Regions from separate parts of the Homo sapiens genome. Here regions 1 and 2 are each linked to region 3. Evidence: fine-mapped expression QTL. Tissue or cell type: whole blood. Region 3 holds a variant in brackets; each other region holds the start of a gene. All regions are shown on one strand. Distances are between the middles of the regions.

Region 1 (8,111 bases), 59 kb after region 3:
ATTATGATGCAATTAGAAGTAAAAGTCAAGTGTGTATAGAATTGTAATTAAGTAAATGAAATTGTATGATTAAACAAATTTGATGAGTTTTCAGGGACATGTGTATTAGGTCTACCTCTTTTGTATATTTTTAATATAGCTTCCTTATTCTTGGCAACATTTTCCCTTCTTTCCTTTCTCCCTGTCATTCTTCCTTTCTAATGTCATATTTCCTATTCTAACTGTATCGCATTTAAAATGTCAATTCTGTAAGGGGAGAGAACACTTTTCTTTTATTTGTATCAAATTATATGATCTCCTGTAGATCTAAGCACATAGCCAGTGATAAATCAGTTACTGATTTTAAAAATTAATAAAGTCCAATTTAGAACTGTCCAGCCAACTGCATAGGGTACTTATAATTTCACCTTATTGTATATATGACAGGGATACATTACACTAAGGTAATACTAATATGTGTATTTGCCTTAAATTTACAATCATTGAATCTAAGTGTTTTTCTTTACACCCCTGCCCCAGGCTTCAGCACCAAGAATTAACCCTCTTGAGTCAAGATTCCGTCCTTTAACTATGCCCTTGCCTGTGGTTTTGACAGCTTTGGTAGGAGTCACACTGTCTTCTAAAGATGATTGTGTGGGTTGACTGTGGTTCTCTTTATTTCTTGATAGAAAGTAGCCATTCTCCAATGTGTTGCTTCCTGAATTGGATCTCCAAATAGCTTCACATACCAACAATAATAATAGTGACAGAAAAAATGTCATTCTGCTGTGTTTGAAAATTAAAATCCCAAAACCCAAATGTTATTGGAATAAAAGAATACATTATTGATTAATGATAAATAGATGATATATTGCTGTGGAGAGATAAAGACGATTGATAGAATAGATGAAAAGAAATACATAACTTTTATAAAGGAGGTATAGTAAAAAAAAAAAAAGAAAAGAAAAAAGAAGGTGGAGAAGAAGAAATAGAATGAGGGAGGCAGCAAGAGGCAAATGTCATAGAGTCAATTGGACCCATGACAGATTTGAAATAGCAACATCTTTCACCTTTCTTCTGTTATTTAAAAATGAGAGATCCTTGAGAAACTGCCCAGTACCTATAACATAGAACGCACTCAATAAACATTTGACTAATTAAGGAATGTCATGAAGACTCTCTGAAGGTGACTGACAACAGATTGCATGTGATATAAAATGTAAAAAAAATATTAATCCATTACAAAATATCGACTTAAGACCAAGTGCCTCAGGAAATTTCTGGTGTATTCAAAGGTGTTTATATTAAAGATCGGAAATAATTTCCTTAAATAATGTGAATCATAAAAATAGCTTAATGTCCATTTAGTGAATTTATTTCATTAGGAAGACAGCACCATATTGTACTTTCTTCTTCAGCTCCGCTTGTTTTCTTCATTAATTTATCCTTTGAATTCCACAGCTTTGAAACCAGCTATGTAAGGGAGGTAGGAGAGCAATGTAGTTAAGAGTATGAGTTTTTTAGACAGATCACCCAAATTTCTAATCATGGTCCCACCACTAACTAGCTTATAACCCTGGAAAGGTAAAATAACCTCTCAGTCTCTCACACCCTTTATAAGTGAAATGGGCATTAACAGCACCAACCCAATACAGATAAAACCAGATTATATACAAATTAAAGTAGATTATGCATGTCAAGCCCTTAAAAGAGTGCCTGGCACATAATAATTGCTTACTAAATTGTCTGTTGTTAATCTCCTCCACCAAATACTCACCCATGGTACCCAGGACCACAGCTATCACCAGTATTACCAAGCATAGGATTCCCAAAATTACAGCAATGAGGCGCCAAGGAGGAGATGCAGCACACGATCCTGAGGAGCCAGAGGGGGCAGAAATGGAATAAAGAAAGAGAATGACGGATGGTGGGGCAGTTTAATTCTACAGTTCATCAAAAATCTGGCCTTGCACGGTGGCTCACACCTGTAATCCCAGAAGGGAGACTGAGGTAGGAGGATTGCTTGAGGCCAGAAGCTCAAGACCAGCCTGGGCAACACAGGGAGACCCTGTCCCTACCAAAAAAAAAAAAGAAAAACAAAGAAAGAAAAAAAATTTAATTAGCTGGGCATTGTGGTGAGCTCCCGTAGTCCCAGCTACTCTGGAGGCTGTGGCAGGAGGATCACTTGAGCCTAGGAATTCCAGAGCAGCATAGGCAAAAAAGTGATACCCTGTTAAAACACACACACACACACACACACACACACACACACACACACCACCAACAACAACAACAAAAAATACTGGCAAATTTTTAAGTGAATTATTAATCACTGCCTAGGTTACCTGGTCACCTAGGATTTGCTGTGCTTCTCCACCAGTAAGGATACCTTCTTCTTCAATTGCTGGAATTGTAATTTCGGCACATTGGCTTGATAACTGTATGCTCCTAATTTCAGTTCCACATTGACATCTACAGGTCTTGACATTAGTAGGATCCCTGAAATCCCACTGATTCTTAGAGGAAATAGCTTAATGTTGGGGAGATAGCACTGATTACTAAGGGTAATTTTCCCTTTTCATATGTTTGTTGCATGACCCTGGGCAAATTACTCCCTTTGTTGTTTTTTATTCCTCTTTGTGAAACTGGGGTAATAATATCTCAAAGGATTATTGCGGGAATTAAACGAGCTAACACATATAAAAGCACCTTGTTTAGAGACTGCTAGCACATGATAGGTGTGTTGTTGCAGGATACCGTTTGCCTACACATATGCATAAACATGCGCATGTCTCCCTACCTCTTGCCTCATCCACTTTTTCCACGCTTCCTCAATAGGTTGCCCAAGAAAAGAATTACATCAGTGCTGAGAGGAAAATATTTGTGCAGTGTGAATAACCAGAAAGCAGAAGAAAGCAAACTCTGGTGTCAAAACCGACAAATGATCTCTCTCTCTCAAAGATAATAGGGAACTAATTTTGTATGAACATTGCCATAACCAGAATGTATTTCTGCTTTCCACTGTGACTAAGCTGTCAGGACATTTCATAGAATTGTCACATAGGAGAATCGTAGAGTAGGCTAAATCACCCATTCTATGAATACAGAGATCCTCCAATGCCCTTCTTTCTATTTCATTTCATTTACACTTTGTTTAAGACTCATGTCCTGCTGGTGGGATGTTTTTATCTACCATATGTTCATATATTTTCCATCACTGGTATACCAATAATTGTTTTTTGTTTAAAAACAATTTAAATTAATCTCTTACCACAAAAAAAAAATGTTGTTCATATATATACTTCTTTAAGTTTCCTGGCCTCCATTCGATAATCTAGCCTTTCTATCAAACAAGCAACAAGTCACTCATACAGAAATCCTTTATCTTTGTGTATTATCCCACTTATTACCAATTCCTCACTGATGAAATGTCTATATCTATAGAAAAGAGAAATTCTATTTTCTGCCATCAGACATAATTAATTTAAACACTAATAATTGGTCACTGAATAATTTTCATGAAAAAAGGTTTAGGGTGCATTCAATTTATCTTCAGTGACATCTGAAGCCTTTAAAAGTATATCCATAAAAATATACACATCACGAGGCTCTCAAATTTTCTCCCCTTATATCTTTTTGTTTTGTTTTTATTTTTATTTTTTTTCAGAGATGGAGTCTTGCTCTGCCACCCAGGCTGGAGTGCATTGGCATGATCTTGGCTCACTGCAACCTCCACCTCCCAGGTTCAAGTGATTCTCCTGCCTCAGCCTCCCAAGTACCTGGAACTACAGGCGTGCACCACCATGCCCGGCTAATTTTTGTATTTTTAGTAGAGACAGAGTTTCACCACGTTAGCCAAGCTGGCCTCGAACTCCTGACCTCAGTCAATCCACCCGCCTCGGCCTCCCAAAGTGCTGGGATTACAGGTGTGAGCCACCATGCCTAGCCTCCCCTTATATCTTTTCAAACGGGAGAGCTAAAGGCACACATTAGAAAAAACATATATATACCTTTCTCTGAAACAACAGCTATCCTGGTATTGCTTTGAGAGTCGAAGTGTAATTGAGTATATCCATCTTCATCCAAATTTTCTAAATCAGGATGATATTCCATTGTTCTTGAGAGCCCCTGAATAGATATAGCATTTGGGAGCTCTTTTCTTTCTGCTCCTGAGATGACTGTCTGTGGACAAAAGAGAATCTCTGAGTCAAATCATGTGGGCTAGGTACTTACCGGAGTTTAACAAATTAAGCTTAAGTAGTTCAACCAGATATTCAAGAGCAGGAAATGAAACTATGCTGTGGTAATTTTCCATTTGTACCTTTAGATCCTGTTTCTGAGACTGCTGACTCAGGAAAACTAAAAGGCAGCATAGCAGATGAGTCTTTGTTTCAGACCAAATGTAAGAAAAATGCATACATTAATGTCTTATGCTGCCTTCATTACTCTCACAACTAAGTCTGACATTAATTAATTTAACCGATGCAAACTATTTCAGTTTTGGTGCTCCAAGTTTACCATAACTTTGTTCATGTATTTATTCATGTATTTTTTAAATTACATAAACAGGTACTGGATGCCCACCTTTTCAATTGGTAGGAGCTTACAATACAAGGAAAAATGATACCTATGAAGAAACTCATTGCTTAATAAAGGAAATATATAGATAGGTAAATGAGGGATGGCATGAGGAGATGCATTGTTGTAACAACAGACAGAGAAAACAAATCTCTTTGGGAATTATCAGATATTAACACAAAATAACATTTATTGAACAATTACTATGAGCTAAGTACCACATGTTGTACATATTTTCTTGTTCAATCTCACTTTTCCAAGTCTATATAGTAGGCATTATTATTTCTATTTTCAAATGAAAAAATGAGACAGAAAATTTAGCCTCTTTCTCAGGTTTAAGAAGCTAATTTTAAAAATTTAGAGCAAGGAATCAAATCAAAGCTGACTCTTGCTGCAAAACTCGTGGTCTTTTCTGTTACGCTACACTGCCTCTTTCATCATTCCATACACTTATATTGCAAGGAACAGCTTATGGAAGGTGTTGGGACTGAAATATTATGTTAGATGTTTGATTTTTTTTCCCTCTCTTCCAGTTTCCATAGTAATGATCAAATCAAAGAAATATAGAAAACACCTAACATTGCTGGAAACTGAAGAGGTGTTCAACTCATTTATCCGACCTTGAAGCCAGTAGAGTGCAGGAGACATCTGAGTGTTGTCAAGGATCAACAAATCTGGATACTAGTTAATGTGGTGAGGACAGGTTTTATTCAGTAATACTATTGCAACAGGAACCAGTGCAGCATTAACTGAACTCAACTTCCCCAAAAGTAAAGCTGATGACATTTTAAAGTGGAGTTTGCTAAGGAAAAGATACTGAGTGGTGTTAAGGAAAGTTAATGTGACTAGACTCTCTGGATTTGTTAATTGGCCCTTATCCAGAGGACAGAGAAACTTTGCCTATCTATATGACAGAAGGACATGGTGATAGTTGAAGTGAAGCACCCAGCTAAGTTGGTCCTTATGCTGCATCTGAAAGAAAGAGCAAGATTTATCTCCCTGAATGTTTGCATTTCAAAGAAACAGCTCCCAAGTCCTTGAAGAAACAGTTCTGTGTGGTAGATTTGCTTCTCAAAGGGCAGAGAAAGAATTTAACTGTAAGATTTATTTTTCTTTTCTTTCTTTTTTTTTTTTTAGACGAAATTTCGCTCTTGTTGCCCAGGCTGGTGTGCAAATGGCACGATCTCGGCTCACCACAACCTCCGCCTCCCGGGTTCAAGCGATTCTCCTGCCTCAGCCTCCTGAGTAAGCTGGGATTACAGGCATGTGCCACCACGCCAGGCTAATTTTGTATTTTTAGTAGAGACAGCATTTCTCCATGTTGGTCAGGCTGGTCTTGAACCCCTGACCTCTGGTGATCCGCCTGCCTCGGCCTCCCAAAGTGCTGGGATTACAGGCGTGAGCCACTGCACCTGGCCTAACTGTAAGATTTCTAAAGTAACTGCTCTAAAAGGAATTCAGGAGCCTATCTGTTACCAAGTTTTTTGTTGTTGTTGTTGTTTTGAGACAGAGTCTCGCTCTGTTGCCCACGCTGGAGTGCAGTGGCGCGATTTCGGCTCACTGCAAGCTCTGCCTCCTGGGTTCACGCCATTCTCCTGCCTCAGCCTCCCAAGTAGCTGGGACTACAGGCGCCCGCCACCATGCCTGGCTAATTTTTTGTATTTTTAGTAGAGACAGGGTTTCATCGTGTTAACCAGAATGGTCTCGATCTCCTGACCTCGTGATCCGCCCGCCTCGGCCTCCCAAGGTGCTGGGATTACACGCATGAGCCACCACACCTGGCCTGTTAACAAGTTTTAACTGGAACAAAAAGTAAATTCTCCTAGCAGCATTGGGCTTCCTCAGGCTGGCCTTTTAAGTAGTGCTGAATCATCCTATGGACCTTGCCTTAGGCTACTAGAAGGCGTGCTAGAGTTTGCCAAGTCTCTAGTGCAGAGATTTGGGAGGAGTTGTTATATGATGAGGGCTCTGCAGTTCTGACAGTCTAACACCTATCAAAATGGAAGAGAGCTCAAGAGAGTACATAAATGAGCTTCCCGCCTTACTTAAGCTGCCACAAAAGTTTTACTAAGTTTTTGTAGACATGTTGCAAAGTGGTAATGTGGATCTTAATCTCAACATTCATCAGTGTTTCAGTCCTATAATGCAGTGCTTGGAAAGCAGCGTATGAGGTTCAGGACATGCAACCCCAAAATATGGATTCTTGGCATTTGAGAAAACAGCAGAATCAGGAAATTCACTCTCACACCTTTCCCCGTCTTTCTGCCCTGAAGCAGATCATAAGACCCTTATTTTAGAAGTATTGTTTCCTAGAGGAAAGAAACTTCCTTATCTTTGAAGATACAGAGATGCCAAGAAGAATCTGAACAAATTAGTCTTGCTAAGCTCCCTCCAGTTTATTAGCATTAGATCATACCCTCCTTGTCCAACGTAGGGGAGAAAAAGTAGTATCTTTTCCTTGCCCATCACCAGGTTCGTGACTGAGACCCCTATAACAAAAGACAGATTAACAAAACAAAAGCATGTAAATGTTATACGACAAGAGAGCCTTCTGAAATGAAGACGCAGGGAAAACTGAGTATTTCTACGGACAGTTATGCAGAAGTATGACTGGAGAACAAAAGGGTATAATCTAATGGTAATAAGCTGAGTAGAACTTAACAAGGCCTGTTTGTTCAGGTAACTTCTATTAAATAAATTTGGATGCTATTCTCTTGTTGATCTATGTTTTATTGTAGATGCCGTGAACCTAGCAATGAGTGAGGAAAAGGAATCTTTCACCCCTACAAAGGGATACCATGGAATTTCTCAAACAGTGAATACATTGGCTCCAGGAAAAAGGGTCGACCTCTTAAATAGAAATAGAGAACTAGAGAACAATAATGAGGGGAGTACCTTGCAGTCAGTAATAAGAAGCTGTCTTTACTATCAAATCAGACCTCCAGTGGGAGAGTTTTTCCCTATAGTGACTTTGACTGTCACCCTGTGTTTAATCACAATCCTATGAAAACAGTTAACTCTCTAAGTGGTCAAAGAAATTTTTCAATAAACATAAACTTTAGTCTAATTCTCATTATTCTCCTTTTTTGTCTCTTTGTCTAAAATAAAGCAATTAAACATTAATTATGCAAATCATTGACAAACTAGAAAAACAATACCCTTCGTATTTCAAGACAGTGGGAGAGATAGGCTGGGTATTCAGAGAAAAATACCCCTCATTAAATGTTAATGCAAGAAACAGGTGGAAGGCCGAGCATGGTGGCTCAGGCCTGTAATTCCTACACTTTGGGAGGCTGAGGCAGGTGGATCACCTGAGGTCAGCAGTTTGAGATCAGTCTGGCAAACATGATGGAACCCCATCTCTACTAAAAATATAAAAAATTAGCTGGGTGGGGTGGCAGGTGCCTTTAATCCCAGCTATTTAGGAGGCTGAGACAGGAGAATCACTTGAACCCAGGAGGTGGAAGTTGTAGTGAGCCAAGATCGTGCCACTGCACCCCAACCTGGGCAACAACAGTGAAACTCCATCTAAAAAAAAAAAAAAAAAAAAAGGA
Region 2 (8,111 bases), 40 kb before region 3:
CATTTTCCCAGTATTTGAAATTGCATAGACCTCACTTAATAATAGACCAGAACTTATAAATTTAGTCTTAGGTAGTTTGTAAGAGATGTAAACTAGTATCATACCAGGTATTATAATCCTGGCAAAAAAATAAGCTTACTGTATTCCAATCACTTTCATTATAGATCATCTGTATGAGGTTACCTCTAGGTAATCAGAGGGCTAAATAGGAAATTCATTCCATGGAAGCAAATCATTGTGGTTAAGGGCACAGATCATGCAATAAAACTGCCTGCCTGCCTGCCTGCCTGCCTTCCCTCCCTCCCTCCCTCCCTTCCTCCTTCCTTCTTTCCTTCCGTTTCTTTCTGTCCCTCTCTCCCTGTCTCCTCTCTCTCCCTTTCTCTTTTTCCCCATCTCGCTGTCTCTCTCTGTCTCTCTTTCTCTCTCTCTCTCTCCCCCGCTCTCTCTCCTTCTCTCCCTCTCTCTCTCTCCTCTTTCCCTCTCTCTATCTCGGATCACTTGGTAAACACCAAGACAAAAACCTGCCAAAAGAAAAAGGAATAGCTCACCACAATTTTCTAAGAACTTGACACACATCAGGGAAGAGATTGTGCCATCTTATAACAGTCACAATTTCCTAAGACTCTGACACAGTCAGAGGATTATGCCATCTTCCCACACTCACAGTTGGATATGCCATGTGATAACCCCAGCCAGGAAGGAGACAACAGTGAGACACAAGGTTCTGTAGAAGACAAAAGCAGAACATAAGCCAAATCGTCCATGATGCTGCCTCCTGGAGTTGACTTGACCATGATGAAATGTAACCGAAATTGACAATATTCCATGACACCACCACGGCTTCTGTGCTGTGGATGGACATTGAAAAAAAATGCACAAGTTAGGAAGTTGTTTTCTTATCCTGCCTTTTCCTCTGCCTCCAAACTCTATTAAATCCAATATAAATAAAAATCTCATTAAGTGTTTACTTTTTAAAGCTTCTTCCCCGGATCAGTCGTACATTCTCTTCTTTCAGCATACTTTTCATTTACCTAGACTGAAAATTTGATTCCCTAATGAAACGTGCTCTCCTAAAACTTTCCAAAGTATTGCATTTGATTGTCAGAATTGTCAGAAGGCAGGTGAGTTGTTGTGTAAACCTTAACTTTATACAATAACAATGTATCCACCTTAGAACAATTATAAATTCAAGATACGATGTATTTTTTAAATTATTCTCTTTTTTGGTTTATATTTTATTTTCTTCTTCTTGTACACTATTATTTCCCTAGATTCTCTTTTCCAGAATGATGTGTTAGATTTGGAATTCAATAATGAAAGACAAAAATAAGTATTTAAATGAGGAAGTATATATTTCCTCTGTCTCTTTTTGTTATCCTATTCAATATGCAAAACCAGGCTGTGTGATCTAAATCAAGTTTCTTATCCTCTAAAGCCTAGGTTTCATATCTAAAAATTAGGAATGATATTACCAGACTTGTAAGGCTGTTGTTTGCACACAAAGGAAGAATTAAATGTGATCATTTATAGACTCGCCTGAGAGCATAGTATTTTATTATTAGGTACTCAATAATTTTTTTAACTTACCCTTACCTTCTCACCTCACCTCTGTAAATTTTAACAAAAGACAGGAGACCTGCATATTTACCAATTCCTTATTCTCTATATTGAGTAAGGTAGAAATTTTAGAGATCCTCTAAAAATTTTTATCCTTGCTGTCTTGCCATGTTATGGATTCCTGAATTATTTTATATTACTGGTCTTTTGCTCCATTGCCACCTTTCAGGACAGGGCTTACATCCATTATCTGAAAAGCCAGACGTATATATTAATTATCTTGATTTCTTTATATTAAATATGGACCATTTAATGCAATGTTTGAGTTAGTCTTACAAATATCTCATTTCCTCCCATGTTCACAATAGCCAAAATATGAAAACAAGCTAAATGTTCATTTCATTGATGAACAAGTGGATAAAGAAAACATAGTGTGTGTGTGTGTGTGTGTGTATATATATATATATATATATATATATATATATATATATATATATACAAGAAAAAACTTTCCACAAGAACCTCCATGTCCTCATTTAGAATTTAATTTAATTTTTTACCTCACACACCTCTTTTTTTTTTTTTTTACTTCCACTTGACACCTTTCTGGGGTAATAGGTATGTTGTACCTGAATTCCACTCTCCCTCAAAATATCTGTCTCAAATTTGTATATACATTAGTAGGTATCAATCAGGAAGGTCTCCCTCAACCCATTCAATAGGCCCTGCCACAAAATTTGAAAAGTTTAAAAAATTCAGAGCCCTGCTTATGTACATGGGTGTACATTTTTGCAGACAAAAATCCCCTGTGCCCTACCTACTCAGCAATCTTCCCCCTTCCTATCAATCTTCCTCTTCCCCTGAATCATTGGTCACAACTGATCTCTTTGTTTTCTTTGTCTTGGTTTTTCTCGAATGTCATATAGCTAGGATAATATGATAGCTTTTCAAACCGGCTTCTTTCACGTAGTAATATGCATTTAAGATTCCTCCATGTTTTTCATAGTTTGACAACATTTCATTTTGTTGTCGAATGATACTCCATTGCATGAATGTACCACAGTTTGTTTATCCACTCATCTTTTGAAAGACATCATAATTACTTCTAATGTCTGGCAATTATGAATAAAGCTCCTGTGAAAATGTGTGTGCCAGTTTTTGTGTGTGTTGGGAGCAAGCCCCCCAAAATCCGGCCATAAACTGGCCCCAAAACTGGCCATAAACAAAATCTCTGCAGCACTGTGACATGTTCATGATGGCCCTAACACCCATGCTGGAAGGTGGTGGGTTTACGGGAATGAGGGCAAGGAGCAGCTGGCCCGCCCAGGGTGGAAAACCACTTAAAGACATTCTTAAGCCACAAACAATAGCATGAGCAATTTATGCCTTAAGGGCATGTTCCCGCTGCAGTTAACTAGCCCAACCTATTTCTTTAATTCGGCCCATCCCTTTGTTTCCCATAAGGGATACTTTCAGTTAACCTAATATCTACAGAAACCATGCTAATGACTGGCTTGCTGCTAATAAATACGTGGGTAAATCTCTGTTCGGGGCTCTCGGCTGTGAAGGCTGTGAGACCCCTCATTTCCCACTTCACACCTCTATATTTCTGTGTGTGTCTTTAATTCCTCTAGCGCCTCTGGGTTAGGGTCTCCCAGACCGAGCTGGTCTCAGCAGTGTGTACAGGTTTTCCACTTTCTATGGTTCCTAGATTGTCTGTTAATACTATACTTACCTCTATAAGAAACTGTCAAGTTTACCGGGCCGCGAGGGTGCAGGCTGCGCAGATGGTGTGGTCCTGCGCCCCGAGGGCCGCAGCAGCTCATCCGGCAGCTCCCACCCCAACAACCTGGAAGGGGGCGGGACTTCCGTTTGTACCCGGCTGTGGCAATCTGTGGTGAAGTTGAAATGCTTTTCTGCTAGACTGGCAACATGTTTTGATTCTTCTCAAATAACTCGCAAGCTCTTGTGAAGCACAACGGCCTACCTTGTCCTGAAGAAAACATACTCTAAGGCCCACAGATGATTAAACCCAGCCATTTATGTGACAATAGCATTTTTATTTTTCTTATCAAGATCTGGGTATTTGATCCACACAATGGTAAAGATTCCCATGTTAGCCAAGATCTAAATGATTCAAACTGATGATACTCTCTGCAGAAGAGGTAAGAACCACTGGCAGTAGGGTGGAAGGTATGTCATTACAGATGATGCTGACAGAGAAGGTCATCTGAACCTACTTTATAAGAAAGGCATGATTAAAGGAGAAAGGGGAAAGGGCATTCTAGGTTAGGAAAGATTCTGAAGAAATGTAAAATAATATGAAGGTGTGAGCTGATATATTTAAGAAATAATGAATGATATGTGGGAGTATGTATCATCTGCAGAGATGGATGAGGGAAGATGCAAGTGGAGGGGAAGGCTGGAGCCGCTGGTGGAAAGACGTTAAGTGTATTTCAATGGCCTGATACTGCAGGCAGTAGACAGCCTCTGTAAATCAGGTAGCTTCCTTACTCTTGCTCCTACTGATCCCTCAGTCTAAAATGCCCTCTGCACTTTCTCTTTAGAGATAGAGAGGGAAAGGGAGTCAAACACGAAATCTCCAGGAGGCCATCCCTGGTTATTTCTTACTCCTCTGTTGATTTCCTTTAATCTGTGAAGTGTCTTCTAACTCGTGGCCTGAGGCTTTAGTGACTCTGCTGACTCATTGTCTGGTGCTACTGATTGTGCTAATGGTCTTCGATATTGTGTCCAGTGCCCCCCACCATTTTGGGAAGAAATTGGCTTTAGTTTTTACTCAGATTGAAATTTTATTTAGAAACGGGAGTAGCAAGACCAGGTGCAGTTAGTTACACCTGTAATCCCAGCATTTTGGAAGGCCAAGGTGGGAGGATTGCTTGAAGCCAGGAGGTTGAGAAATGGGAGTAGCAACCAATGTCGGTAGAAGAAACAGCATATAATAACAGGATGTGATAAATCTCAAGAAAAGTTACGCACAAATTACTATGGCAGCAGGAACGAGTGAGCCGCCCGATGCTGTCAGTGAAGGCTCTGAGGATTGGGAAGGATTGGCAGGGTTACAGGAGACAAACAAATGCTACAAATAACATTCCAAGTAGAAGGGGAAGTGAGGGTAGGGAAAGGAATGCAGACAAGGCTGAGCCTTGTTTGGAGAGCTAAGTTCAGTGTTGCAGATGCTCAATGTCATACCTTAGGAGGGAATTGCAAATTAAAACAACAATGAGAAACCACTGTATACTATTTGAATGACTAAAATCCAAAATACTCACAACATCCAATGCTGGCAAGGATGTGGAGCAACAGGAGCATTCATTCACCGCTGGTGAGAGGTAAAAAGGCATAGCCACTTTGGAAGGCAGTGTGGCAGTTTCTTACAGAGCTAAGTATAATATTAACATACAATCTAGCAACCATAGACGCAGGACAAGAACTCGGGCAAAGACGCCACAGCCACACAGGTTTCTGAACAGAAAATCAACATCCCAAAGATCCCGTAACATAATCTATGCTCAATCTCCATCTGTATATTAAAATCCATCCACCTACCTCCTTAGGGATTTCTTTTTTTTTTTTTTTTTTTGAGACGGAGTCTCGCTTTGTCACCCAGGCTGGACTGCAGTGGCGCAATCTCGGCTCACTGCAATCTCCGCCTCCCGGGTTCACGCCATTCTTCCGCCTCAGCCTCTCGAGTAGCTGGGACTAAAGGCACCCGCCACCAAGCCTGGCTAATTTTTTTTTATTTTTAGTAGAGATGGGGTTTCACCGTGTTAGCCAGGATGGTCTCGATCTCCTAACCTCGTGATCCGCCCGCTTCGGCCTCCCAACGAGCTGGGATTACAGGTGTGAGCCACCGCGCCCGGCCAATAGGGATTTCAAGCTTGTAATTTTCTTTCTTTGGTTCGCTCTGGCACTATCAATTTCTTTTCATCTCCACTTGTTCACTCACCTTCACCTCCCAACATGGTATAATATCTCCTATGTTAAAAACAAGCAAAAGCCATCTTTTGTTTACCATGCCCCCATACACACGATTCTAATTTTCTTATATTTCTTCTTAACATTTCTCTAATTTTCTTGACAACAAAAATGTTCAAAAATCTCTCTGTGCTTACTGTTTCATCCTACTTTTCCTTTATGTTAATTAGGCTTTTTCCTTCACTATTTCTATGAAAACACTCCAGTCAAAGTCACCATTAACCTCCACATGAACACATCTAATGGCTAGTTCTCAGAATTCATCTCACGCACCAGATAAGCATTCAAAAAAAAAAAAGATTATTCCCTTTTCATAACATACATTCTTCTCTAAAATACAGTGTTCCCTAGGACACCGTTCTCTTCAATTTCCTTTTGCTTCATTCACAACCCAATCCTCCCTCAGATTTGGATTCCTCCTTAAATTAATTTAAAATGTTGTTGTGTCCCAGAATTCAGTTCTTGGTCCTCTTGTTTTTTTTTTAATTTATCCTGGGATGAACTAAATTGGATAGTACCCATAGAATGGCCAGAATGGGAATTAATCTCTTGTAACCTCATGACTTAATAGCCATACATTGATAATGTCCAAAATTATATTTCCATACCATTGCTTGATCTCCAGAACCACATATCTGACTGGATTCTTGGCATATTGACTTTGATATATTTTAGGATTTTTTAACTTAACACATCAAAAAATGAGTGACTCTTCCCAATGAGTTTCTCCATCTCGATAAATGAATATTCCATACCTACGGTTCCTCTGCCAAAAACTTGGAATCACCTTTGACTTTTCTTGCTGCTCTCACATGAATTAAACATGTCAGAAAATATTGTTCACCTTGGAAAATATGGAAGCACAGTTATTAATTATGGAAGTATTGTTGATTGAGAATACCTTAAAAGAAATGCTGAGTTAACATGATAGGAGGATTCATTCTCACTCTGTTCTTTAACAGTCTTTCCATTCTCACATCTTATGCCTGTTTCAGAGGACACTTTTAAAGTGGGGCCTAAATTGGATAGTACCCAGAGAATGGCCAGAATGACAATTAATTCAGAATTATTTACAAAAAAAGAAATAGGGAAAAATGAAGATGAAAGCCAGAGTTATCAAAGGCATAAGGGAAACAAAAATAAACTAAAAGCAGAAGAAAAATAAATGGCCACAAGGAGGAGACAGAGGATGGATATAGGATGGAATTTATTTTTAAATGTATTAATATAGTCACCCAATTAGGTGAGTATGCCTGACCAGGATAATAAAATGTCTGAATTAAAATGAAGCACTGTGAAGACAGGCTGATTGATTCAAATCCTGGATCAACACTTACTTGCCCTGTGGCTTTTGGCAAGTTACTGAGCCTCTGTGCTTTATTTTTCTTAGCAGTAAATTTGTCATAAGTTTAATGCCTACCACAAATGTAACTGATAAAAGCATATAGAAAGAGCAATAAATGGCAGCTGTCATAGTGGAAGTAAGTTTGGATTATTCTGGATTATCTTAAAAAAAGGAAGAAAGCTGGGACATTGCCCAAGCACTGACAGTGAAGCTTAAACAAACCAATTCTCATGAGCCCAACCAGGGTCTGCCTCCAGCCTGTCTGGAAGAACTCAATTATATCACTTTTCTTCATTTGTAGCACTTTTCATGATGTAAAATTATGTTGATCTTTGCTTTCGATGTAAAATTATATTGGTCTTTGCTTTCTATGTTTCTTTACTATCTGTGCTCCCCACCCTTTACTATAATACAAGCTCATTGCTTGTATGATTCATTAACGATTAGTCCCCAGAAAATAGAAACATGCCTGGGACTTCCACAGTGATCAATAAACATATGAAATGGGAAAAGTTCTCTTGTCCCCCTAGCAGAGTGTGCAATGGAGGTATGGCTCGCTTCTTCAGTGCCCCGCTACTCAGACCTCTAGGGGAGGGGCAGGCTGTGGGGCTCCGGCCCCACGGTAGTGTCTAGGAGTAAATGTTTGTATCTGAAGCCCCAGTGGGCGTGTGTTACAGGGTGCTCTTTTAGTTTAGCCGTCCATAGGTGGCTTGTGTTAGTCAGCTCAATTAGACCCCTACCTTATAGCAAGGACAGAGGCTTTCTGCATCCCAGGGTTCTTACCTTGGTGTACTGGAAGAATCAGATCACACGTGGGCTTGGAGAATGAGTGCAAGGTTTTAGTGAAAGGAAGTAGCTCTCAGCGGATGGTGGAGCCAAAAGGGTGATGGTTTTCCCCTGGAGTCTGGCCACTCAGTGGCCCAGGCTCTCCTCTGATTGTCCCGGCCAAACTCTGCCTTGTTTCACCAGTTGGTGGCCTGCCGATATGCTCTTGACGTCCAGCCACTTATGTCTTGTTCCATTGATGACTACTCTCAATGTCCAGCCACTTATGTGTCTGCCTGCTAGGGTCTTGGGGGTTTTATAGGCACAGGATGGGGACATGCGGGCCAGGATGGTCTTGGGAAATGCAACATCTGGGCATGAAGGCAGGAGTGCCTGTCCTCATCCAGGTCGGTGGGCAAAGGCCCGGGGGTGGAGCCCTCGCCAGGGA
Region 3 (8,111 bases):
TGTGATCTACAGAAAGAACAGATTCTTTAATTATTATTATATTACTTGTTACCACTTACGTCCCTGCAAGAACGCCGTACCACATAGTAGGTTCTCAATAAATATTTGCTTAATTCAGTATAATTTTATTTAATTCTTCATTTCTCATAAAGAGGAGCTGAGATTCATTAGATTATCATCTTTTCTTCCTAAGCATAAAGGCATCACTTAAATATATAAAGTAAAAAAAAAACCTAATTCTCTGAGTCACTGGAAATCATTTAAATGAAACTAAATATCCTCTTACCTAAATGTCCTTTTACAATGGGTAAGGTTGTGTAAGGATGAGAAGAGCATGTTTTTGTTTATTTACCCTTGACCTAGAGTTTAAATGTGGGAGTTTAAGTAAAAGAGATTTTTCTCTAATTTTCTGCAGAACCTGAAAAAGGAGAATAGCAGAGAAAACACAGCATATATTGTCTCCTGTGTTTGATTTTTACAGCTGACAGCTGGCAGCTGAATGTAATAACCTGGAATAAAGGAGAAACAATAGTGGAATTTACTAGCAAAGACTGTTTGCCTTAAAGATTCTTCAAAGTATTGTCATGGAACTATGTTTAGAGGAAGGATACGAAGCACTTATAATCATTCTTTAAGAAGTACAATAAAGCAAAAGGCAAACATCCTTCAGCTGATGTCATCCCGTAGTGTATGATGCAGTATTTTCAAATTAGAATTTATCTACAGCGCAGCTGACTTCAGCTCCTACAAATCTCCTCAGCAGCGATGCTACTTTCCACACAGATGCTATAGTTGGGTGATTCTTCTCTGCAGGTTGCTTTTGGTCCAGGATACCAAGGCTTTTCAGATACAACACTGAGTATGCCAGTCTTATATCCTAGTCCCACCAACAATGAATTGGGCATCTTAGATCTCTTTCATTGAGTTCTAAGTTAGTCTTAAACAAACGAAAAGAAAACTAAAAATAAAACTATCCTGCAAATGTGAAGAGTTTTTTTACATGTTTGGTTAAAGTACATTAAATGTATAAAAAGTATACATAATAATATTGGTAGAATAATAGTAGATACTATTCGAGCCTAAAAATCTATTCATATAATGAAGCGTGTACAAAAGTCACGCAGACTTTAAATCAGAGGATCCTGATTTGTTTGTAATCTTCAAATACTGTAAGAATCTCTCTACAGAGGAGTTGACTCCCAAATATTAAAGCTGGCCCAGAGACAACCTGCTAACCTACTAGACTTTTCTCCTTGTTCATAATGTGTTTGTATCCTCAAAATAAAAGCTCCCCGTTACTCTTCTCACACTTCCTGCTGTTACAGGGCTCATGACCTGTTTCCTGTTGATAAATCCTGAAAGCTGGTTCAATATCCTCAGGAAAAGAAAGAGCTTATTGTGTACCGGAGATCTCAGCTCTACCAGGAAAGGCTGGGCTCCTCGTTTGACTGTTCCTGCAATTTCTTCAGAATTACATAAACAAGAACCTAGAAAGAAAAAAGTCTCCTCATCCAGAAAAACCAGTTCATACAGTGCCCCTCTCTGATTCTCAACTGGATATTGTTCTTAGCAAATCAGATTTTAAAATTCACTTTATCATTATGTCCTATTCTTAATATCATTTTTCTAAAGTGTGTAGTGAGAATGCTATGCTATACACTTTTTTCTGTTGTTTTGAAATGTTTGTTCACATTGTGATCAATATTGTGAGTTTTGCTATAAAGACAAAGGGATTAAGGGGAAACATGAAGAATAAACTCAGGGAAGGAGCTGAAGTATGTCAAATGTATGCTATTTTTTCCTCCTCACAATCTAAAGTGACACTATCCCTTAGTCCCAGACTTGGAATGACATACCATTCAAAACTCACTCTAGGCAGCTAGACCCTTCACATCAATGGCACTTAAAGAGTGGCTTGTCATCCATCCCTGAGCTAGACTGCAGCCACATAGGATGCTAGGAGTCAAAACTTAAATGAGTGCATGTCTCTGTTTTACAGCTTAGTCCACAAAATCATTTGACTTCCTCCTATCAGTCATATTTTCTTTCTGTAGCAACAAGGCTTACATAACAATTGCTTAACTGCAGGCTTACTTCTCATTTCTTGTTATGTACCTATTATATGAACTACTTTCATCGAAAATCTGCACTCATCATCAAAAATATTTGGTAATAAAATCCTTAGCTCCCCAAAGTAGGTGCCCTTCTACAATTTGTTCATAAATACAGATTTCCAAAGAAGTTTGTTGTTATTAATAAATCAAGTTTAGCCTAACGCTGCCTTTTTACGTATTTTAAGTTTAGCTTAAAGGATTCTCTGTACATAATGTCAACTATAACAAGTTGAGGGGTAAACAGACCCTAGTCTATACTTGTGCCAATCACTGTGCTTTGGCCAATCAAATGTAGCCAACTGTTTGAATTGTGTTCAAATAAGGCAAACTCCGAGCTGTAAGCAATCCAGCTTTTTCTGTACCTCACTTCCGTTTTCTTTACTACGTTTTCCTTTTTCTGTCCATAAATCTTCTTCCACCACATGGCTGCACTGGAGCCTCTGAGTCTACTCTGGCTCTGGAGGCTGCCTGATTTGTGAATGAGTCATTGCTCAATTAAACTCTTTTAAATTTAATTGAGCTGAAGTTTTTTTCTTTTTAACATTGCTTATGCATGTGTATGTGCGCCCCTATATTTAAAAATAAATCACTAGATCCTTTTAAAAATATTTTCTTGACTTCCCTTACATTTTTTATTGCAGTTCACATTATGAAACTGATTTCACATTTACTTTATTTCAGCTAACAGTAACATTATGAGGAAATTATAATTATTTCTACTTCATATGCAGTGAAATAGGTTTCATGAAGTAAAGTGACTTGCCTAATAAGTAAATCAGAATAAGAGGTCTAAAATCTTCATTTTCTAACCACAAATACAGTTTTCTTTGCATGACACAATATATCAACAGAACTTGCTCGACCCTGAAGAAAATTTTAAGGAAATCAACAGAAAATTGAAAGGAAAGTTCTCAAGGAAGAATCCGCAATAGTCTTTGCTAAGTGACAATCTAACAAAATGAAGTTTATGAAAATGAGCACCAATGTGTTCTTTCTATCATATGATTGCTACTATACGTCATTTTACCATGAGATAGATGTTTATGAAAAACAAAACTGAAGCACCTCAGTTTCCACTGTTGAAAAACAAAGATTTATAATGTTATCTTTTCTAGCATAAAACCCTCAAAATTGATTTATCAGTAAACCAATAAACTTGGTGGCTGTGATGGTGTCATTCCCAATGATCCCTGTTATATTTGTGCATGGAGTCGTCTCAAGAAAGAAGTGCCTCACAAAGGAGCAGCTACAAAGATGTCACTGTCTCTGTTCATTTCCCATGACCTGAC[T/C]GGAAATCATGTGCACTAATGCAACTCAGCTTCCTCATCAACCATGTGTTGATGCCATAAGCTCACCTCAAAAGATTTCATTTTAGGAAAACGTTAAAACTGTTTTCTTGAAGCCAACACGTATTTCAAAGACATCTTATTTTCTCCAGATAATCATGTAATCAGTACTCTTGTAAATTCCCCAAAAACTTTCAGTAAGGCACAATCAAAATAATGACCGCTATCATATTTTGAAAAGCATTTCCATGCTGAATTTTCCCACCAACCATAAGTCCATTGTAAAATCACACACACTTCACAGTATTTACATTTATTATTATTAAATCTTCAGTACCTGAAAGGTATAAATATGGGTCAATGGAAGAAAATAGGAACTGAAACTATTACAGGTGCAGATGAAGAGGCTCACTTTTTTCTGGTCTTTAATCTCTCTGAAGGGAATATCGGGGACGGTAGTTCTGATATGAAACGGAGATGGGGATATATTTCTTTCCTGGGAGAAATTCCTATGGAGGGGAGACAATTATCAGAGTCTTAATGGACACAGGAAGGAATGCTTATAAGGCATTGAGATTTGAGATTCTCATATCAAGTGACATCCCTGTTGGGAAACGGCATGGACAAGGCAGATGGGGTCTTTACTGATGGATTGGGAAGGGACTAGTATGAACTGAAACAAACAAAAAGAATTCCTTGTGTATTTGCTGGTACAATCTGGGAAGTGACTGCCAATTTCTGATGGACTACTTGACTGTCAGAGAAAAGGATGTTACCTCAATGTATTTCCTCTACTTCAAAAAGTTTCTTATTCCACCAAGTGTAAGGAAGACATGAAAACAGGGAGGTGATATTAGACATTGAGAAGAAAGAGAGCTAAAAGTTATCTCTAAGCCAAGAAGGCAGATGACATTATGGGTTTCTGAGGTTGGTTGGTGGCATGTAAATAAGACTTCTTGTGACTGTTAAATACGTGCATAAACCCAAGCTCAGAAATGCTGGTGATCCTGAACAGGAAACACGAGAACCCATTTTGTACTAGTCAGAGAGATAGTCTTTCCTGATTATGTTCCATTTCCCAATGTCTCAACTAGCCCTTGCTTTGGCACCGCCTGGCTCACTCTGCTATTTGTAGTTGCAGAGGGCGAATCAGTCACCTTCGCCTAATGTTTCAGGGGGGACATGGAGGCTCTCTGGCTTCACCATTCCTGCCCTTCTCTCACAGACACAACGCTTCAATTCTTTGCAGTCCTTTGAGAAGATCATCCCATTAAGGATGGCCACACAGTCTCTGCTTCTTGGGCTGGTGACATCTATTATAATATGGAACCTTAAGAAAGGAAGAAAAAGTAAATTCAATCACGGTTTATTTCTAAAATAAAATATTAAATACCCATTCTTTCTAGAGTTATAAAATTATAGTCTAGATACCAGAATAAGTTTACCGGGAAACTGGGGTCATGTGCCTCTTTCTCTTCAGCCCCTAAGTTTCCATACTCATTCTTAGAAACAGCAGGTCACCCCAAACAGCAAAAACCATTTCTAACTAAAGCGAAGCTACGTGTTCTCCTCCAAATTTATATAGTGTTTCTGCCACTTAAAAAGTTCTCTACCTTCTCTGTAACTCAGTTTACTTAACTGTAAAATACAAATGATTACATCAAATATATCCTGTCTCCTGGGAGAATAATGATATATTGTATATAGGGAAGAATGGTGTCTGTTCAAATATGGCTTTAAATGTGATATATTTTGATAGAGAAATTACAATTTCCTCTTTCAAAGGATACTGATGTGGTTTGGATGTGTGTTCTTTCCAAATCTTAGTTGAAATGTTATCCCCAGTGTTGGAGATGGGGCCTGGTGGGAGGTGTTCGGGTCATCGGGGTGGATCCCTCATGAATGGCTTGGTGCCCTCTTCTTGGTGATGAGTGAGTTCTCACTCAGTTAGTTGATGCAAGATCTGGTGGCTTAAAAGGGCCTGGAACCTCCCCCCAGCCCCTTCTCTTTTGTGTTCTCTCTTGCCATTGGACATGCCAGCTCTTGCTTCGCCTTCTGCCATGAGTAAAGCTCCCTGAAGCCTCCTCAGAAGCCAAGCAGATGCTTGTACAGCCTGCAGGATTGTGAGCCAATTAAACCTCCTTTCTTTATAAGCTATCCAACCTCAGGCATTCATTTATGCTGATGCAAAAATGGACTAACACAGATACCATATGTACTCCTGTCTAAATGCTCACAGCATATGTACGACTAGTGTTTTATATTACCCCTTACATTTTCAGCAAATCTTTTCTCAGAGATTGTGTTTTTTAAAAGATGTGCTCCCTATTTTGCTGCACAGAAAGCCAAGAACTCTTATGCTATCTCTGGGTACTGACAAGTTGTGTGACTTTAGGCAACCACCATTACAGCCTGGACTCCTGGGCTTCAATTTACTCACTCAGGGAAAGATCTCTCTCTCTCTCTCTCTCTCTCTCTGTCTCTCCCTTCTCTCATCTGCAGTATGTCCCAGACACAAACTTCTGAAAGCAGCAAGAGAACTACCCTGATATTTTACTAATGCTATGTATCTGTCTCCCTCACTGGCTTATAAGCAGTTCAAAAGCAGGCACTGGCCGGGTGCGGTGGCTCATGCTTGTAATCTCAGCACTTTGGGAGGCCAAGATGGGCAAATCACTTGAGTCCAGGAGTTCTAAACAAGACTGGGCAACACATCATAATCCTGTCTTTCCAAAAAAGACAAAAAATTAGCTGCATGTAGTGGTGCACGCCTGTAGTCCGAGCTACTCAGAAGGCTGAGGTGAGAGGAGAGCTTGAGCCTGGGAGGCAGAGGTTTCAGTGAGCAGAGCTTGCACCACTGCACTCCAGCCCATGCAACAGAACAAGACCCTATCTCAAAAAACAATCAAACGAACAAACACACACACACACACAAACAAAATGAGGATGCACTATTGTTCAAATATCTTCAGGCATCCTCCTGCAAACACAGTATCCAGTACAAAGCAGAAGTTTGATTAATACTTGATGGACCAAATTCTTGAGCTCTATCACTCAAGCAAAATATCTTTGTTAAATGCCTTTCCCATAAAATATCCTGAAGGCTTACAGTTCAGAAGTGAAAGGGGTTCCATCCATCCACAGCCAGGCCTTGCCACTGTCAGGGCGCAAAAGCCCTGTCCAATAAGAGTAGAAAAACTCAGAGTAGCTCTGAGACGCGGCAAATTCCTGTGAAAAGCACATAAGAAAAGCTTTAGCTTTGGTGGCATGATTACTCACATGTACAGACATGCATGGGCCAGCCAGCACTTTTCTCAAAGCACACACAAGTCCTGCTTCACATTGATGCTCATATGCTTAAGAGAAAAAGCATCTATGCTGAGGCCAGTCAGAAATTTGTCCAGGTTTAATAACTTATTTTGTCTTAGTAAATATGGAACACATGTCGATATTCTGAAAGCGGAAATCACATCAACCAAGATTTGTTCCTGACCCATGGCTTTTAAGGCACAGAATTAAACATTAATGTTGACATAAAAATATGAGGGAAAGACTAACAAAGAGATGCAGAATGATTCTGGGACATGGAAGAATATGGAGGGAAAAGTGCAGGAATGAGGTAGTAACCGTTATAAATACCTGGGAAAGGAAGAAAAAAAGTAAAAGAAAAATTTGCAAGGATGATTTATGTCTTAGACTAGGAAGAGAAGAAAGAAATTTTTAAATTTCTATCTATAAATATTTATGTGCACACATGTGTATAGTCCTATACATGGTAATCCTTTTCCCAATATCCATATTTAACATATGTTTACATTTTAAAAGTTGTTTACTTACTTCTATCTAGTCTCACTCTGCACTCCTAATAGATATTTTTGGAGGATTGGTGGCGACAGGGTCTCACTCTGTTGCCCAGGCTGGAGTGCAGTGGCACGATCATAGCTCACTGCAGCCTCAACCTCCCCAGGCTCAGTGCACTCCTAATATTTTAACATAGAAATTATCTAAATATTTATTATAATTATCCATTTAAATAATGAGTTTCTCAAGGCCGTACACTTTGTTTCATTGTTACATCCAAAACCCCTCAGATAATTAATAAAATATACTGATTTAATGAGAGATTATTGAAAATGTAAATGAAGCTATTACCAAGCAATAGTCGTAGAGTGAACAGGTGAAAATAACTGTAGTTGAAAATATTTATTCCAATTAAATGGGCGGGTGCCTTCAAATTAAAAATTTTGAAAGCAAATCATATGAAAAAGATTTAAATATATACAAATATATGAAGTTCATGATAGAAAATAACTACATAGGTTCAACAAGACAATTTCCTACCACGTGATATAATATAGTTCAGTTTTATACCTGAGTTTGCAGTGTATGCTGGAGGCAGAGGAATCAAAGAGAATAAGAAAAATTAGGAGGGTTTATGCTAGGGCACACTGTCTTAGTCAAAGAAATTGCCTCGCTTTCTGCCTAAATTAAGCCATCGAGAAAGGGTTATAAAATATTAGTAGCCGAGAAAAATTACAGAGGTTCTTTCATCACAGATTTCAGGAGGTAGGTAGAAATTAAGAAGTAATTAGAATGATGTTAAGAATTTGTGTAGTGAGCTGAGCATTTAATTCAATTAAATAACCCTTTGTTGATAACCTACTCTTCATCAAGAAAAATCTCTGCTAAATTCTAGAGAAACTGATAAATA

Evidence for each region. PIP is the estimated chance that this variant, and not a neighbour inherited with it, causes the effect.
Region 1: it holds the start of CLEC7A, and the variant in region 3 is fine-mapped to the expression of CLEC7A in whole blood (TOPMed, PIP above 0.99).
Region 2: CLEC9A starts here. The variant in region 3 is fine-mapped to the expression of CLEC9A in whole blood (INTERVAL, PIP above 0.99). The same link has a PIP of 0.9 or more in neutrophils.

The regions. Positions count from the first base shown.
Region 1 is chr12:10,125,991-10,134,101 of GRCh38, forward strand. CLEC7A (C-type lectin domain containing 7A) reads right to left here and starts at 4,209. Exons shown (of 6, transcript NM_197947.3): 1 at 3,990-4,209; 2 at 1,757-1,855; 3 at 581-718. The coding sequence starts at 4,092. LOC105369655 (a long non-coding RNA gene) reads left to right here. Exons shown (of 4, transcript XR_007063208.1): 2 at 5,091-5,250; 3 at 5,695-5,802; 4 at 7,296-7,624. RefSeq lists an enhancer at 7,748-8,111.
Region 2 is chr12:10,027,251-10,035,361 of GRCh38, forward strand. It overlaps CLEC9A (C-type lectin domain containing 9A), which reads left to right and starts at 3,432. Exons shown (of 9, transcript NM_207345.4): 1 at 3,432-3,722. LOC102724020 (a long non-coding RNA gene) reads right to left here and starts at 3,373. Exons shown (of 4, transcript NR_169587.1): 1 at 3,293-3,373; 2 at 549-724.
Region 3 is chr12:10,066,784-10,074,894 of GRCh38, forward strand. CLEC1A (C-type lectin domain family 1 member A) reads right to left here. Exons shown (of 6, transcript NM_016511.4): 5 at 6,510-6,628; 6 at 2,771-4,730. The coding sequence ends at 4,550. Among named protein-coding and RNA genes, the nearest start is that of CLEC1A, 28 kb to the right of the region's middle. The variant T/C (reference allele first, on the strand shown) is at 3,404.